Regions from separate parts of the Homo sapiens genome. Here region 1 is linked to region 2. The links come from fine-mapping of genetic effects on gene expression. A gene starts in region 2. The other region holds a variant in brackets. All regions are shown on one strand. Distances are from middle to middle.

What was found.
Region 1: its variant is fine-mapped to the expression of CISD2 in whole blood (TOPMed, PIP 0.96).

What each region holds. Positions count from the first base shown.
Region 1 is chr4:103,163,261-103,173,255 of GRCh38, forward strand. CENPE (centromere protein E) reads right to left here. Exons shown (of 49, transcript NM_001813.3): 17 at 219-293. Among named protein-coding and RNA genes, the nearest start is that of CENPE, 30 kb to the right of the region's middle. The variant A/G (reference allele first, on the strand shown) is at 4,458.
Region 2 is chr4:102,864,840-102,874,834 of GRCh38, forward strand. CISD2 (CDGSH iron sulfur domain 2) reads left to right here and starts at 4,153. Exons shown (of 3, transcript NM_001008388.5): 1 at 4,153-4,348. The coding sequence starts at 4,246. It also overlaps a transcript of UBE2D3 not described here. RefSeq lists an enhancer at 3,604-3,743 and silencers at 3,974-4,263, 4,294-4,413.

The DNA of each region.
Region 1 (9,995 bases), 300 kb after region 2:
AAGAATCAAAGGAGAGAGTAACAATTTAGAATCTGATTTGAAGTCTAAGGGATTAAAACAGAACTTATATATATTAGTTTAAATTCATAGTAAAATTCAAAGTCACTAATATTTTAAAAACATAATTCCCTTATTTCTGACATCATGTTCAGTTACATATGTTGCATGTTTTATAGTTCTAATTGCTTATCAATAGAAATACCAACATGAATGCTCACCTCAAGATCTTGATTATATACTTCTGCATGCTTAACTAAATTCTTTAAGTTCGAAATTTCATGAATTAGTTGCATCTGTAAGAGCATGTGAACAGGTAACAGAGCAAACCAATAGTTAATAAAGCAAAGCAAAAAAAAAAAAAAAAAGAAAAAGAAAAAAAAGGGCACTGGTTCACTGCTTCAGAATCACCCAACAGTTAGAAAGGACTGAGATCAATTGTTCAAGCTATCGCAACAAAGCACCTCATTATTTAAAAATACTAGAAATATCACCCAAAACATATCAAACAAATAAAAAAAAACCCCTCAGCATGACCCCACCAAGTAGCTATATCATCTGTTAATAAAGCTACAATAATGTCAATAGCAAATTAGTATGCACTACTTGGAGGAGAGATTTAAAAAGTGGTAATCAAACCTTGAAAAATACACGTTTAGTAGATTTTTGTTTTCAGTCAGTTAAGTACAGAAATGTATTAATTCTTATAAAGTTTTTTCTTCCCATAAAGTATCCATCAGCTCTACATTAGTGTACTTTTTAATAAGTTCTGATTTGGAATCTAGGTTTGGATTAGGGTTGTTTCATGCAGTGCCTTTACAATATTATTACTTTTCACCAGTGCTACACAGGTATGGAATGATCAACTATGACCTTGATTTATTCCAGAGGAAATATTGCACTCCATTATATTGTTCAACCATGTAAAAGTATAAAGGTAGAAGTATTTCTATTGAGGTGTCCTTTCTACCAAAATATCTGTAGCATTAAATATCTGAGTACCAAAAAGTTTGTTGAAAACAAGTAAACCACACATAACCAAGATAAACATTTTCCCTTAGAATTATTTAATCTTCATAATCAGATGAGCACTTACAGAGTAAAAGCAAATTCTAATAGTATGTAAGGGGCTTGAAAATAGTATCTTATTTAAATATTTTCTGGATGTTTAACTGAGTCCTGACTAGTTTTAAATTTCAGACTAGTGCAAGTGTTGACATTACTATTTTAGGTCAGTGCTATCCAAGAGAAACATAATGTCAGACACATATGTAATTTAAAATTTCCTAGTAGGCACATTAAACCTAAAAAGAAAAAGGCAGAATTAACTTTGAGAACATATTTTATTCAACCTAATATATCAAAAATATTTCTTCCAAAATGTTTCTTCAGGTAATCTATCCAACATGTTTCTTTAGGTAATCAATATAAAAAAAATGAACAATTTTACATTCTTTTTTATATACTATGTCAATTCAGTCTGGTCCCATTTCAAGTGCTTAATTGCCACATATGGTTAGTGGCTACCCCACTGTAGAACACAGTCTTAGACATTTGTACTGCTTTTAATTTAAATTGGCTCCTTCTTTCACCTTTTCTTCCTTATTTTTAACTTCTGTGAAAGAAAATCACATTTACCAATAAGAAAGAATCAAAAATCAATCTTAACTTTTAAAAATACTTAGAAGAGATCGGGTGCATTCAGGGTAGTATGGCCATAGATAATGAAAACATTTAAAGAATACTAATTTAGAAAAGAAAATTTTCCTACTTCTTATTTGAAATAGCACTTTATCTTAGTACTGGTTCTTATGCATAGAAAATAATTAGCTTTTATAAAAATAAAAGTGTAATCTCCCAATGACATGTTTAAGATGCAGAGCATGAAGTGAAAGTGTGTGAAAAGGAAAAATGATTTAAACATATGATCTGATCTACAGTTAATCCATTGCTACCATTTAAATTGCAGATTTAAATGGTAATTGTCATTAGGTGAAATGAAATATTTAACTTACATCTCCAAGTAGTAAAAATTATAAAATTAAATACACCAAGTTAAAATAGGTAGACGGTAAAGATTTTTCTCATTCCTCGAGTATGGTGATACTTGACATTTTCCATTCTCCCTCTAAAACATACTATTTAAGCATCTCATGTTACTATATTCCCACTAGAAAATTATCTACAACTTGGGTGATTTTTGACAAAAGCTTTAGGAAAACCAGGGAAATGGCTCCATGTCCTAAGGCCAATTTGACTTTTATTCCCTTTTAGCTAAACCTTTCCCCAAAATGTAGGTTTTGGAACATATTTTGCTACATACACATAGACTTATATTTTTAGTTTAACATGGACTAGATACTGCAAAACTGGTTTTGAACAGGATGTTTTTATTACATAATCTTTTAAGTAACCTTAAATTTTGTGTCGAATTAAAAGTAAAGGGCCTAGAGCAGTGGCTCACACCTGTAATCCTAGCACTTTGGGAGGCCGAGGCGAGCAGATCACTTGAGCCCAGGAATGTGAGACTAGCCTGGCCAACATGGCAAGACCCCCGTCTCTATAAAGAAAAAGTTTTTTAATTATATGTCTTTTAGATTAGAAAGCTGAGCTTTGTGTTTTAAAAAAAAAAAAAAGAAAAAAAAGAAAAAGAAATTTAAAAAGAACGGAGTAGGATTCTTCCTCCTCAACTGTGGTTAAAATGGGAGAAAAACTGCAGTGTGATACATGTCATATATTCTGTGGTATTTTTGTAATCTTTCTCTGTGTTGACTCAATTCAATAAGCTTCAATTTTTCTTATTAATATATTAATGATGTGAGAAAAATATTAGAGAAATTATTACCACTTATCCCAAACGTTAGTTTTATGTCATGTTATTATCACATATAAAAAACATACAAAAATTAGATGAAATTTTAAAGTCAGAAGGGACCTTGGTGAGCATCTGGTCTCTACTTCAAGGGTGGAGAAATACAGGAAGCCCTGAGATTCAGTGACTTGCCCAAGGCCTTGGCAACAATTCATAATAGGATTGGATCTGCGGTAAGTTTATAAGTGGCAAAACTGCGGCTTAAATCCAGGCAATTTCACTCTAGAGACCATGTTCTTAATCATGACACTAGGCCAGTCCCTTCCATAAAACCTAGTTTTATTGATTAAAGTCCAATGGTTTTGTCATGCATGACATTTTGCACTTCATTAACATGCATTTTAAAACAAGCTAAATGAAACCCTGTGGAGAACTTATAGACTTTTACCTCTTTGAATATAGTACCTATGAAATAAAGCAATAATTTTAATTTGTAGGTAGAATGGAAATAATAGCTTTGGCATAGAATTCTTTTTTCCTTTAAAAATGAAAAGAGGTTGAGAAACTGAACAATGATATCGAGGAAAAAGGGTCATGGCCTTTTGGGCTAGCCACATAGAAGTCTGAAGAGTAGCTGCAAATTAATTCATCTTTTAACTACATAAAACACTGGGTCTTATTTTTTTTTGAAGGGGGGATGTTCACGAATCACTTTGCAAGTCTGATAACAACTACAGATTCTTGTTCCAGAAAAATGAATATGCATTGAAAAATTCTGCAAAATAATTTCACAGCATCTGTGGCCTCTAGGTTAAGGACACTTTACACTAATAACTCCCTTTAATCTTTTGGACAATTTCTGAGTCCCTAAAGTCTGATGGTTTCTGGATTAAGTTCTCTTAACGTGTAGCCTAATATTTTATACTTAGAAAATGAGTGATCTGTTTCTATAAATTCCATTATAACTATTTAGTATTAGTTATACTAATTTTCACATAACTCTCTTAGATGGAGAAGGAAAAACAAAACGTACAAAATTAGCTTCTCCAGCTATTCTAATGTTTTAATTATTTAGAAACATACTTTCTAAAGAAAAAGAAATCCATTAATATGTAGCATCCATATATAAAATAGTCATCTAGATATTAAAATTCATACTGATCTCAGTAGGAAACTGCTGTGCTCTAGGTAGCATTTATATATGCTCAATAAAATGTAATATACAAACTATAAGGAAACAATTTCAAGACAAATCCATCAAGAGGTAGATACACCAACCCTTCCCATAGATGCTTTTAATTCCTTTTTCTCTTGCATAAGCACCAGGGAAAGAAACATGATTTAACTATTTTTAAAATATAAATGAAGAAAATATTTCTTAAATTTTCTAAATTGTATATACATATGAAAAATGGTTAGATCTTCAACATCTCAATCTTAGAAAAAAAAATCTTTAAGACAATACTTCTGAGTGATGTCAAGAAGATGACAGAATAGGAGGTCACCTGCTCACATCCCCCCAAAACAACAAGAATTCTGTACCTATTACAGACAAGTCTTTTTGTGGGAGCCTTTGGATTCAGGTAGGAGGTTGTAAAACCCCAGTAGAACTCAAGACCTGGAAGTGTTGTTTTTGAGAGTGCATACC[A/G]ACACCCAGGTGGGAGTCCTGCCAATTGTGCTCCCAGGTTCATATGCAGAAATGGTCCCATTCCTTGAAGGACTTAGCTACAGCCCTGTTTGGCCTAGAGTCTGCAACCAAAACTATCTGTCAAGGGGTCCAGGAGAAATCACACACTCTAGGGTCTCGGCAGATGGGCTCTTCTGCCTGTCGACATTGGTCTTGGCAGTGGACCCAAAAGTTAGCCTATAACTTGGCTCCTGCCCTCCTCAAGCTGTAGTCCTAGCTTAGTACTGCTTGCACAAGGACCCAGAAGGGAACATGCCCATCTGAGCCACCAGGACAGGCTTGCCGGCCTCTGTCTCATAGCAGATTCCGACGGGGACATGTACTGGCTCCAGCCCTCCCCTGCTGCAGCCTCCCTGCTCTCACCCACACAGAGAACTGCCAAGAGATGAACCTGTCTGAGCCACTGGGTCAGGCTTGCAGTCCTCCATCCCACAATAGACTGAAGGGGCCCTGTCTCAGCTTCAATGCCTCTTTGCTGCAGTCAGGAAGCTATCTCGACTGTATTGGGAACTGCTGGGTGAAGCACCTGCCCCAGCCACCAGGACAGGTTTCATGCATCTTTCCCATAATAGATCCTAAAGCAGTCTTGTCTTGACTGCAGCCCCTCTCTACTGCAGCCTGGCAGTTATCCTGCCTGTGTAGGACAGGCCTGCTGGCTTCCATCACATAGCAGTTCTGGAAAGAACCTTGAATGTCACAGCTACAGAATGCAAGCAATCCTCCCTGCATAAGGAACTGCTGGGAGTCTTGACTGCTGGTGCCACCAGGTTAAGCTTACCAACATTGGTTCCATAGCACATTCTGAATTAACTCTGAAGCTTGGTTTCAGTTTCTCCTAGCGATAGTCTGAGAATGGTTTTACCCAGCCGGGGTCCTACCGGGAGACAGGCGTATCCAAGTCCCTGTGGCAGGTTTTGCAACCCTTGTCCATCAGCAGATTCTCAAATGGCCCTGGATCTTGATACTGACCCCTCTCATCTGTGGAATAAGAACAGCTCTGCCCACCTGGGGACCTAAAGAGAAAGGTGTCCAGTAGTGCCTCTGCAGGATAACATGGTGACCTCAGTCATACTATAGATCTTGAAAAGACCTTATAAAGATGGTGAAGACTAAAACAAATAGCTACATTCATCTTCAATGTGCAGACACTGCTGCATGACCACAAGCATCATGATCAGGGAAACATGATGTCACCAAAAGCACAAAGTAAGATACTGGTGACTGATCCTAAAAGATGGAGATGTATTATCTGCCAAAGAATTCAAAATAGCTATTTTAAGCGAGCTCAGCAAACCTCAAGAAAACATAGAGAAACAATCCAGAAATTTATCAAGGAGACTGAAATAATAAAAAAACCAAACAGAAATCCTAGAGCAAGAAAATACAATGAACAAAATGAAAAATGCAACAAAGAACATCAATAGAAGAATGGATCATGCAGAAGAATTTGTGAGCTTGAGACAGGCTATTTTAAAATATAGAGTCAGGAGGCAAAAAAAAAAAAGGATGAAAAGGAATGAAGTTTATGGGACAACATCAAAAAAGCAAATATTTGGGTCACTGCAGTTCAAGTAGAGAAAAATAAAGGGACAGAAAGCTTATTTAAAGAAATAATAGCAGAAAATTCCCAAACCTGAAGAAAGCAATACATATCCACATATAGGAAGGTCAAAGGTTACCAATCAAATTCAATCTAAATGACCCTGCCCTAAGATATATTATATTCAAACTCAAAAGTCAAAGACAAGGAGAAAATCCTAAAAGCAGCAAAGCAGCAAGAGTAAAGAGGCAAATAACATAGAAGGGAGTTCCATTATGGTTAGCAGTAGACTTCTAAGCAGAAATCTCACAGGCCAGGATCATTAAAAAGTCAGGAAACAGATGCTGGAGAGGATGTGGAGAAATAGGAATGCTTTTACACTGTTGGTAGGAGTGTAAATTAGTTCAACATTGTGGAAGACAGTGTGGCAATTCCTCAAGGATCTAGAACTAGAAATAACATTTGACTCAGCAAGCCCATTACTGAGTATATACCCAAAGGATTATAAATCATTCTACTATAAAGACACATGCACACGTATACTTATTGCAGCATTGTTTACAACAGCAAAGACTTGGAACCAACCCAAATGCCCCTCAATGATAGACTGGATAAAGGAAATGTGGCACATATACACCATGGAATACTACGCAGCCATAAAAAAGGATGAGTTCATGTCCTTTGCAGGGACATGGATGAAGCTAGAAACCATCATTCTCAGCAAACTAACACAAGAACAGAAAACCAAACACCACATGTTCTCACTTATAAGTGGGAGTTGAACAATGAGAACTCATGGACACAGGGAGGGGAACATCACACACTGGGGCCTGTTGGGGATTGGGGGCCTAGGGGAGGGATGGCATTAGGAGAAATACCTAATGTTAAATGACGAGTTAATGGGTGCAGCACACCAACATGGCACATGTATACCTATGTAACAAATCTGTATGTTATGCACATGTACCCCAGAACTTAAAGTATAATTAAACAACAACAACAACAACAAAGAGGAATCTCACAGGCCAGGAGGGAGTGCAATGATATAGTAAAAGTACTGAAGGAAAACAGTTGTAACATCAAAAGTTAGAAAATCAAATATTCAGAAAGTGGGAGGAGATAAAGTGTGGAGTTTGTTTGTTTGTTTAGTAATCAATGATAATCTGTTATCAGTTTAAAATAACCTGCATAACTGTAAGACTTTTTCTTGTAAGCCTGATGGTAACCACGAAGGAAAAAAACCTATAATAAATACACTAAAAATAGAAAGGTATCAAAACATACTATCAGAGAAAATAATTTATCCAATAAGGAAGACAGTGAGATAAGATAAAAGGACCTAAAAAACAAATAAGAAAATAATTAGCAAAATGGAAGTAGTAATTTCCTACCTATCAGTAGTTCCTACCTATCAATGTAAATGGACTGATTCTCCAATTATAAGATAGAGTGGTTGAATGGATTAAAAAATCCAAATATATGCTGCCTGAAAGAGATTAACTTCACCTGTAAGGATACAAATAGATGGAAAGGAAGGGGTGGAAAAAGATATTCCATGCAAACTGAAATTGTAAGAGAGCAGGAGAAGCTATACTTATATCAGCTAAAATAGACTTTACATCAAAAACTGTGAAAAGAGACAAGGTCATTACATAATGATAAAGGGGTCAACTCAGCAAGAGGTTGTAACAATTGTAAATATATATGCACACTGAACATGGCAGAATATATATAAAGCAAATATTAATCTGAAGGAAGAGAGACTGCAACACAATAATAATAGAGGATTTTGAAACTACACTTTCAGCAATGGACAGATTATTCAGACAGAAAATCAACAAAGAAATAGCAGATTTAAACTGCAGTCTAGACCAAAGAGACCTAACAGATGTTTACAGAACATTCCATTCAACAGCTGCAGAAAACACATTCTTATCAACTGCACATGGAACATTCTCTAAGACAGATCATATTAGGCCACAAAAACAGTCTTAAAAAATTTAAAATCAAAATTATATCAAGTATCTTTTCTGACCACAATGACATAAAACTAGAAATTAATAATAGCAGAAATTCTGGAAATATTACAAATACATAAAAATTAAACACGCTCCTGAACAACCACTGGGTTAATGAATTAAAAGAGTAATTTTAAAAAGCTAAGACAAATGAAAATGGAAACACAATATACCAAAATGTATAGGATGCAGCAAAAGCAGTTCTAAAAGAGAAGTTTATAGTAATAAACATCTACATCAAAAAAGAGGAAAGAAATCAAACTACCTAAACTATTACCTCGAAGAATTAGAAAAACAAGAACAAACTAAACCCCAAATTAGCAAATGGAAAGAATAAAGATCAGAGCAGAAATAAACAAAATAGGGACTTTAAAAAAATCCACAAAATAAAGAGTTTTTTTTTTTTGAAAGAAACAAAATCAACAAACCTTTAGCTAGACTAGGTAAAAAAGACAGTCGACTCAAATAAATAAAATCAGAAATAAAAAAGGAGACATTACAATTGATACCACAGAAATACAAAGAACAATTATATGCCAATAAATTGAAAAACCTAGAAGAAATGAATTCCTCTACCACATTACCTACCAGGACTGAATTATGAATAAATAGAAAACCTGAACAGGCCAGTAATGAGAAAGGAGACTTGAATCAGTAATAAAAAGTCTCCTATCAAAGAAAGGCCCAGGACCTGATGGCATCACTGCTGAATTCTACCAACAGTTACAGAAGAACTAATAGCAATTCTTCTCAAAGTATTCCAAAAAATTGAAGAGGAAGGAATTTTTCCTAACTTATTCTACAAGGCCAGCATTACACTGATACCAAAAATAGACAAAAAAGGAAAACTATAGGCCAATATCCCTGAAGAACAGACAGAAAAACCCTGAACAAAATACTATAAAACTGAATTTAACAGCACATTTAAAAGATAATTCACCATGAACAAGTGGGATTTATCCCAGGAATATAAGAATGGTTCATCATAAACAAATCAATAAACATGACATACCGCATTAACAAAACAATGAAAAAAAGTCATACAATCACTTCAACAGATGCAGAAAAATCATGACAGAGTTCAATACCTCTTCATGATAAAAACTCTTAATTAGGTATAGAAGTGATATGCCTCAACACAATAAAGGCCACATACAACAAACCCACTGCTAATGTAATACCAAATGGGGAAAAGCTGAAAGCCTTTTACTCTAAGATCTAGAACAGGATAAGGATGTTCCCTTTTGCCACTTTTATTCAACATAGTACAGGAAGTTCTAGCTAGAGCTATTAGGCAAAAGAGAAAAATAAAACATAATAGGAAAGGAGGAAGTTAAATTGTCTCTATTTGTAGATGATATGATCCTATATACAGAAAACCCTAAGGACTCCATCCAAAACTGTTACAACTAATAAAAAACTCAGTAAAGTTGCAGGATACAAAATCAACATAAAAAAAAGTAGTATCTCTATATGTTAATGGCAAACTATCCAAGGAGGTGTCAGATCTCTCAAATGAAAACTATAAAACGTTAATGAAAGAATTTGAAGAAGACACAAATGGGAAGATATGCATGTTCATGGATTGGAAGAATATTGTTATAATGTCCATATTGCCCAAAGTGATCCACAGATGTAATGCGATATCTATCAAAACACCAAAGACATTCTTCACAAAAGTAGATTAAAAACAATCCTCACATTCGTATGGAACCCCAAAAGACCCTGTATAGCCAAAGCAATCTTGAGCAAAAAGAGCAAATCTGGAGGCATCATACCATCTGCCTCCAAAATATATTACAAAACTATAGTAACCAAAATAACATGCTACTGGCATAGAAACAGACAACAGGCCAATAGAACAGAGAACGCGGAAATAAATCCATGCATATACAGTCAACTGATTTTTGACAAAAGTGCCAAGAACATATGTTGGGGAAA
Region 2 (9,995 bases):
ACAGCAATGGAAGAGAATAAGCAACCCAGGATGTGTGGAAACCTGATTTGAGATAAGTGACATTACAAACCACAAAAACAAGTTTAACTCTTCAATAAATGGTGCTAGAACATAGTTGTCTGTATGTAAAATAATAACAAATGAGAGTAGATCCCTTTCTCATGCACAAAAAGTAAGTACTGGGTTGAGTAAAGCCCTAATATGAAGAATATAAGTTTAAAACTTTTAGCAAAAACACAGGTGAATACCTTTGTGATTTAGGGGTAGAAAAAGATTTCTTAAACAAGACTCCCAGAACACAAATTGTAAAGAAAAAGATGAATAAATTTGACTACACCCAAACCAAATTTCAGTATAAAAACAGACATACACGGCCAGGCACGGTGGCTCACGCCTGTAATCCCAGCACTTTGGGAGGCAGAGGCAGGTGGATCATGAGGTCAGGAGTTCAAGACCAGCCTGGCAAATATGGTGAAACCTCGTCTCTACTAAAAATACAAAAATTAGCCGGGAGTGGTGGCGGGCGCCTGTAGTCCCAGCTACATGGAAGGCTGAGGCAGGAGGATCACTTGAACCTGGGAGGCAGAGGTTGTAGTGAGCTGAGATCGCGCCATTGCACTCCAGCCTGGGCAACAGAGACTCTGTCTCAACCAAAAAAAAAAAAAAAAAAGACATACACTAGGAGAAGATAAGCAACAGGAAAAGATAAGCAACCAATGTAACCAACAAGGTAATATTTTCCAGAAAACATGTACCAGTGAAACTGATGAACAAACCAATAGCACAGTGGGCAAAGATGTCAAGAGCAGACTAGTAGGCATTTGGAATTAGACTCCTAGAATTAAGATTAGCCTAAAGAAATCTGGGCTGGAAATAGAGATTTGGGCTATATCTTAACGATCATATTTGAATTTGGGGCACTGGATGACCTAATGGGAAAAAAACATGAAAGAAATAAAAGTCTTGGGCCTAGCTAGGACAGGCAGAAGATGAGTGATCCAAGCTCAAGTGCTTGAAAGTAAATAATGACTCCTTTAACTGTATTTACATATTTATCTTGAGTTTTCTGACCACAGTTTCTTTATGTCTTTTAAAGATGGAGTCTAAAAACACTATCGCATAAGGTGGTCAGATAAGCCTATTACATCTATTTAGAGCAATATTATCTTTAGACCATGTTTCATGTGCAGCCAAGAAGGCAGGGTTGTGGAAATGAAATACAAATATAAATGAAAACAGGATTTAAATTTTAAGTAAAGGGAATTTAAGAAAATATTCCTTTTAAGTGGATAATAAGGATTTTTAAATTGGTGGAGTTAGGAATTATCTCCTATTACACATTCGCATAGCTCATGTAATGCATCAGAATACCTAATATATGATCCACACCTTTTCTCTGAATTTCAAGGCCTCCCAAAAAAGTTTTATCCATATAGACTTGCATTCACTACATTTTTTCTACTTGAAAATAGCAAACCAGCTATTCACATAAACTGCTAAGAGGAAGTAAGCCAACCATAAAAAATTACATACTGTAAAATTACTTATATGTGAGGGTCAAAAACATGCACAGCAATACAGAATAGTAGTAATGGTGGTGGATGTGGTTGGAAGGGTCGCTTTTTAAAAACGCCTCTATTGAACATTCTGTATATTGATGTGGGTGGTGGTTACCTGGAACTGTACATTTGGCATTTGAGCATTTTACTATATCTTTAAATTGAGGTATGTATTTTTTAATTCTTTAAAGAAAAACTGCTTGGAGGTCTTATTCTTAATGCACAACAATCACAAACATTAAATTTATACAGTCCAGAGAATGTAAAGTTGCTTTAAAAAAATTCTTTCCTTTTCTCACTTTAAAATACCAAGGGGAAAAATTAAACTCAACACAGCACGTCTTGCCCTTGTCAAGATGACAGATCCTCTAAGAGAAGAAACGAATAGGTAATGGCCTTTTCCAGATTTTCTTTTCCTAATGTACCCCACTTCCAACCTACCCCTACCTCAACTAGGGTATCTAGTTGTACCCAAGGGTGCTTCTACATTAGATCCACAGAGATTAAAGATAACAGTTAACAGAATAGTCCAGAGGACAAGGATATTCAAGTTCCATCATCTTCAGGATAAAAAAGCTCCAGGGTTTACCTCCAAACTCTCTCTAAAGGAAATCCCATCAACCTTTTAAACATCACTTTGTATACACCATCTTCTATACTGCCCTAGCTCAAAAACATGAACCTGTATCTAAACGTGTTTGTAGAATTTCCATTGTAAGTTTTACTTTAACAATTTTGAACAATTATAATGATAGAAAATTATTTAATCTAGATTTTGGTCAACTCTATTACTGATATTCTTTTTTAGTGAAGGACAATCACAAACACTAAATTTATACAGTCCAGAGAATGAAAGATTGCTTTAAAAAATTCCTTCCTTTTCTCACTGTAAAATAAAAATACCAAGGGGAAAAATGGAAAGTATTTATTATAACTGGCTGTTACACTGTCATACACAATGAAATACTGGACCATTAGCAGTTCGTTATTATATGTTGTTAAGTGTAGAACTGTAAATAATGAGGCATATTATTAAGATATCACACACATTATCCAATCAGCAAGTGCACAACTTCGGACATTTTGACTTCAGCCAAAATATGAAACAAAGTCATAGCAAGAAAGTTATTTCAAGGGAGTGAAATTTTCTCCTCTTACCCTTCAAATCTTTTAGAGATATTAATAAAAACAACTATCCAGCCTGGGCGATATAATGGGACTCCATCTACATACACACAAAAATTTTTAAAATTCGTTGGGTGTGGCAGCACACGCCTGTAAACCCAGCTACTTGGAAGGCTGAGGCAGAAGGATCCCTTAAGCCGGAGTTAGAGTCTGCGGTGAGCTATGATCTGACCACTGCACTACAGCCTGGGCGATAGAGCGAAACCTTGTAACAACAACAACAACAACAAAATTAAAACCTTCAAGATCAAGCTTGCCCAACAGGATGGCTTTGAATGCCACTCAATGCAAATCTGTAAACTTTCTTAAAACTTTATGAAAAAAAATTTTTTTTTAGCTCATTAGCTACCATTAGTGTTAGTGTATTTATGTGTGGCCCAAGACAATTCTTCTTCCAGTGTGGCCTAGGGAAGCCATAAGGACCCCCTGCGCTAGACTTCAGCAGAAGCCTTGTAACATAAAGAAAACCATACATAAGGCTTTAGATTCTTTTTTTTTTTTTTTTTTGTGACGGAGTCTTGCTCTGTCTCCCAGGCTAGAGTGCAGTGGCACATTCTCGGCTCACTGCAACCTCCGCCTCCCTGGTTCAAGCGATTCTCCTGCCTCAGTCTCCCGAGTAGCTGGGACAGGCACCTGCCACCGCGCCCGGCTAATTTTTCTATTTTTAGTAGAGACGGGGTTTCACCATCTTGACCTGGCTGGCCTCGAACTCCTGACCTCGTGATCCACCCGCCTCGGCCTCCCTAAGTGCTGGGATTACAGACGTGAGCCACCGCGCCCGGCCAGCTTTGGATTCTTTTACCACTTTCCCGAAGGAAAAGGAACTGAAAATATCTAAGGAAGGACTACTACGAATCTTCTCTGAGTGGCAAAAACCAGAGGTTTTTGGAGCTAGGGCTGCAGTTAAGTTGCCAAGGGGCAGAGATGTAAACAGTTCCTGGTTTAGTTAAAATATTTTAATTTTTATTTTTTTAAGCCTGGCCTTTGGGTGAAGGAGTAAAATTAGGCACTGGGGTCTGGGTAGGGGGAGGATACTCATGGGCGAGTATGCAACCCTAGGGCCACAGCACCCAAACTGTAGGGGAAGAGGCGGGGCGAGAGGGGACGAAGTAGAGACAGCAAGAGACTCACTTTTGAAAGGCACTTTCGGTTAGAAAGCATTCTCACATGCTTATCTCATCGCACACAGTATCCTTTCTGCTGGTCTCCAGCATCTACAGACGTTAAAGGCCCAAGAGGAGGGCCACCTTCACACGAGATTCCGAGGAGGGCCTCGCTACCCGCCAGTTCCCGCGCCTCGGCAGTCCGCCGCGAGCGTACGTCACTCGCCCGCCGCCAATCGGCGCCCGGCAGGTCACCTCTCCTCCCAGGGCCCGCCGCCCCGCCCGCCGCCCAGGCCGAGGCCGCCAGTGCCCGCCGGCCGCTTCCGCTCCCGGCGCAGGCGCGGCAGCTTGGCCAGAGCGGAGGGGGCTCGGGAGAGGAGTGGACGCCGCTGGCCAGGATGGTGCTGGAGAGCGTGGCCCGTATCGTGAAGGTGCAGCTCCCTGCATATCTGAAGCGGCTCCCAGTCCCTGAAAGCATTACCGGGTTCGCTAGGCTCACAGGTAATCCTCCCCCATCAGCCAGTCCCCATCCTTGCACGTTCGCCAAGCGGGGGAAGGAGGCGTAAAAATCCTAGGGCCAAGGGGCGGGACGGAGCTCGGCGCCTGGCACGTGATCCCCGCGCGCAGAGGAAGGTGGGCGCGCGCCGACGCAGCTGCCTGGGGAACGCCTGTGAGGCAGTCTCCGGGTGCTTGATGCCCCAGGGTCTTTTGTCCTCGGAGTTGTCTCCGGTGTCATTCCGTGGCAAGATACCAGGTTTTTGCAGAGAAGGTGCTGAGTTGGGAACAGGCCAGTCTCTTTCATCTCCTGTCCTGCTCATCGCTCTCTGTAGCGTACTTGTTTATTTTAAAGCGGGCTAAGTCGTCGTTATCTAAGGCCTCATGTAACAGGCAGCCCCAGCTACCGGCTGGGTTGTACCCTCAGCATGTGGGTGGGAGTGTGTGGGAGAGAAATATAGACTTACACGTAACACGTATATGACCGTTTTATTTAGTAACGAAATTAGGAGATAACCTCCATTCCCTCAGGTTAGAATTGACCTATCATAGGTGGCATTTGAGGTCATCTCCGTTTCTACGGTCCCGGGGCCCGCTGCGGTAACTTAAGTTGGAAGAAAGATACCTTACCCAAGAAAGTATTCGAAGGCCGGTATGAGGAGTGAAATCTTAGAAAATGAAATTTAGTGAATATATGTAACGTTCTATACTTAAGGACCCTCACTTAACCCACACAACTCATGAGGATTTCACATCTAAAGGATGAAAATCTCCAGAATGCAGTCAACACTTGGGAGATTGTGTTGAGTTATGAGCATTTCATTGTAAGGGGGATATTTCTAAACGGAACTCAGACCGAGTAGGATGGTGAAGGAATCAGCAAGTATTGAACTCCTATGTCCTAGGTTATCAGGGAGTGCAAACATGAATTAAGATAATTCTGAGGTAAATAGGGTTGCTTCGCCGGGAACGTTCTAAAGATCTGTAGTACCTGACCTAAAATACAGCAATCGCACAGCTGTCTGGTAGAAGAAAAATAAGATTTGTGTAGACTAAAATATAGAACTGATAACAAATTAACCAAATTAGTGAAGGTTATTGGGAGGTGAATTTCAGTCTAAGGAAGATTTTTTTTTAAATTAAAGAATGCTTTCCCCAAACAAATGTGGTGCTTCAGTGATAGCCCCTCTCAAAGATGAAAAAAACAAACAAAAAGACTCTGGTGGTGGGTGGTCGATAGATTTAGAAGGGATAAACTAGATGACAAATTCTCTTCCAAATCTAGAGATTCATTGAATTATGGTCAGACAGACGCTCTGTTGAGTGGATTGTGAGATTTTAATATTTTTTAAATATTAAGAGTTTTAGTAGAAAACATGCAATTGAATAGAAAGCATGGTAACAATAATAAACATTAAAAAGGAACATTAAACATCAGAAGCAATGCAAAAGTAAAATAAAATGAAAAACGTTTCACATCAAGTGTTTATAAACATCAGATCTTTTGATCCTACCAGTTTACTCTGACAGAATTGCAGCAATTCCATAAAATTTTGGCTTTCCCCACTTCTTTTACTTAAGTACTTTACATATTTTAATATAATCCTCATTTTTTCCCTAACAACTAAATACTTATTTTAGTTTTAACATCACAATGGGCCTAACCATTCATTCCCTTACAACTGGAAATTAGAAATGTTTCTATTTTTTAAAATTCATTATGTAATAGTTCATTGGCAAGTAAGCAAATACCAGTTGTCATATTTCTCCCTTTTGGATGTCTTCACTTAAATAGCAATACCAGGCCAAAACGGTATGATCATATTGTGACTTTTGTACCCTTTTGTCATTTTGACATTTGTACCTTCTTACTAATTTGCATAAGTTAACTGTTGAGGAATTTTTAACAGTCAAGAAAGGAAAATGTCCAATGAATTACCTATGTTTTTTCCAGATGGTGGCTGCATTTGTATTAGTTTCGATTCTCTGTAAATCAAGTATAATTGAAGAAAATTAGAAAGTATGAAACTAGATTTAATGGCTAGATTTTAGAAGTATGCTTTCTTTTCTTGAGGATCCCTAGTGTCAACAAATATTTAATTCCTATTAAAGACATTAAGAAAACTCAACCAAAACCTTTTCTCTCTTAAGAATATATAGTAACTTCCTCTTAAAAGTTGTTAAATATTTAATATGAAGACTGATTCTCAGAAATAATGACCATTCTGAGAAGTATTTTAATAACATACATTTAACTTAAGTCCCATTACAGTGTGGCTATAGTTAATAGTTCTCATTTTATTGCTGGTTTATTTAGGAAACATGAACATGCTTGTAATAACTGGTTTATGAAAAACATGAGATAGCCCTTTTTGGATTGGACAAAACAATTGCAGGGTTTATTTTGGAGTACTATAGAAGAAAAATTTCAGTGGCTATTTTCCACTCTCGGTCTCCCATTCTGAATAGATTGTAACAGTTAATGACATTTGGCTTTCTTAAATGAGTTACTTGTAGAATCCATAATGTACACTTTTGTTAAAATAAAAACCTGGAAGACAACTTTTTAGCAATTGTTTAAAATGTCTAGGAGACCAAAAAATATTTCCATTTTCTTCTATGAAAATTAGAGCAAAAAACAATACAGTTCACATTATTATTGCCTACATTTCCTTCCCTATTTAAATCTAGCTGTTTTTTAAAGCTATTGACTCTCTTATGATGACTCTGCATTCTTAGAAACCACATGGAGATCTTTAATGACCATATACTAGTTAAATACAGGCAGTTCTCACCTATCAGAAACAACTTAACTATCTTTGTTTATGTCACATTTTCAAGAGTGAGGCGTTCAAGATAAATTACTGTGATTATCTAATTTATGTTTAACTTAGGTTTTTGTTTTGTTTTGTTTTTTGAGAGGGAGTCTCTTTTGCCCACACTGGAGTGCAGTGTCGGCTCACTGCAACCTCTGCCTCCTGGGTTCAAGCGATGCTTATGCCTCAGCCTCCTAAGTAGCCGGGACTACAGGCATGTGCCACCATGCCTGGCTAATTTTTTGTATTTTTAGTAGAGACGGAGTTTCACCATGTTGGCCAGTCTGGTCTTGAACTCCTGACCTCAGGTAATCCGTCTGCCTCGGCCGCCCAAAGTGCTGGGATTACAGGTGTGAGCCACTGCGCCCAGCCCTACCTTAGGTTTTAAGTGGTAATAGTAAACTCATGCATTGAAAATATTTTATCTTTTCTACAGTTAAGAAATAGAAATAATTTCTGTGTTTAGCTACATATGATAAATGAGAAAATATGTTATAAAATAACTAGCAACCAAGCTGCCAGTATTATTTTTATGGTATCATAAGATGATATGGCTATATTATATGTAGATGTTTGAAAATTTGAAATGGAAAAATTCTGTTCTAGTTCTGTGGAATGTAATTCCTCATTAAGATCGGAGTTTGTCTATGTCATTTTTATGTCATTTTATGTCATTTTTAGCTATTATTAAAAAATGTTTTAATAATAGTATTTATATGTCATAAGGAATAGGTGTCATAGCTAGCCTGTGTCACTATATATAATAAAAGGTTAAACCTAATTTTGTTTCCCAAAGAAGATACTTCATTTTGACAATGTCTAAACTTTCAGAAAATTTATGCTAAAATTGGTAGCTACCGTATTATTCCGTTTTCATACTGCTATAAAGAACTACGCAAGACTGGGTAATTTATAAAGGAAAGAGGTTTAATCCACTCACAGTTCAGCATGGCTGGGGAGGCCTTAGGAAACGTACAATCATGGCGGAAGGCGAAGGGGAAACAAGGCACCTTCTTCACATCATGGCAGGAAGTAGTGCCGAGCAAAGGAGGAAGAGCCCCTTATAAAACCATCAGATATCATGAGAACTCACTCACTATCACCAGAACAGCATGGGGGATACCACACCCATAATCCAATTACCTCCACCTGGTCTTTCCCTTGGCACGAGATTATGGGGATTATAATTCAAGATGAGATTTCAGTGGGGACACAAAGCCTGACCAAATCAGCTATTCAAGTTGCTTTGAAATTTTCTTTTCTGACTAGATTTTGGTTTTCTTTTGTGAGAAAGGGTTTCACTCTGTTGCCCAGGCTGGAGTGCAGGTGGCATGATCTCTACCCACTCATTGCAGCCTTGACTTCACAAGCTCAAGCCATCCTCCCACCTCAACCTCTTGAGTAGCTGGTACTACAGGTGCACGCTACCACACCTGGCTCATTTTTTTGTATCTTATTTTAGAGACGGGGTTTTGCCATGTTGCCCAGGCTGGTCTTGAGCTCCTGAGCTTAAGCTATCCACTCACCTCAGCCTCCCAAAGTGCTGAAATTATAGGTGTGAGGCACTGTGAGTGGCCTAGATTTTGTTTCTCTGATGGTGCTGGTTCTTTCATTCTTCCTTTTTGGTCCTGTTATTTATCTTAATAGTGGGATACGTGGAAGGCTGAGGCAAGAGAATTGCTTGAGTCGTGGCACTACATTCCAGCCTAGGCAGCAGAGCGAAACCGTCTCAAAAAAAAAAAAAAAAAAAAAGGGATGTAAAAGTCAATATGTATATTAGGTCCTTGCTCAGTATTGAGCTCAATAAGAAGATGAACAACTCACATTTAAAAATTGGCAAAACAGGCCAGGTACGGTGTGGCTCATGCCTTTAATCCCACCGCTTTGGAAGGCTGAGGCAGGCAGATCACTTGAGGTTGGGAGTACGAAACTAGCCTGGCCAACATGGTGAAACCCCGTCTCTACTAAAAATGCAAAAATTAGCCGGGTGTGGTAGTGCACACTTGTATTCTCAGCTACTCAGGAGGCCAAGGCAGGAGAATCGCTTGAACCCAGGAGGCAGAGGTCACAGTAAGCTGAGATCGTGCCACTGCACTCCAGCCTGGGCAACAGAGTAAGACTCTGTCTTCAAAAAAAAAAAAAAATTGGCAAAACAGAAAAATGAACAAAATCTTATCCTTTGCAGCAATATGGATGCAGCTGGAGACCATTATCCTAAGGAGATTAACACAGAAACAGAAAACCAAATAACACATATTCTTACAACTGGGAGCTAAACATTGTGTATTCATGGACATGAAGATGGCAACAGTAGACACTGGGAACTGCTAAAGGGGAGGGAGGCAGGAGGTCAAGGGTTGAAGACTATTGGGTACTATCCTCACTACCTAGGTGGGAGGATCAGCCATATCCCAAACCTCAGCATCACACAATATACCCATATGACAAACCTGCACATTTACCTCCTCAACCTAAAATAAAAGTCGAAATTATATTAAAATATTTTAAAAAGGAAATTTGGGCACACACAAAGGGAGAACACCATGTGAAGATGGAGGCAGAGATTGGGGTGATAGACCTACAAGCTAAGGGACACCACAGCTTCTCCCTCAGATCCTCCAGAAAGAATCAACCATGCTGACACCTTGATTTTGGACTTCTCGCCACTAGAACTGTGAGTGAATACGTTTCTGTTGTTTTAAGCTAAAAAAGAAAACGAAAATGCAAGCACGAACACATTGTTCTCTGCAGTTTAGGGAATCCTAGTAGAGACTACTGCTCACATTTGTTCTCTCTTCTCTGCTTTAATGGCCACTACCTTAGTTTTATCTCAAACT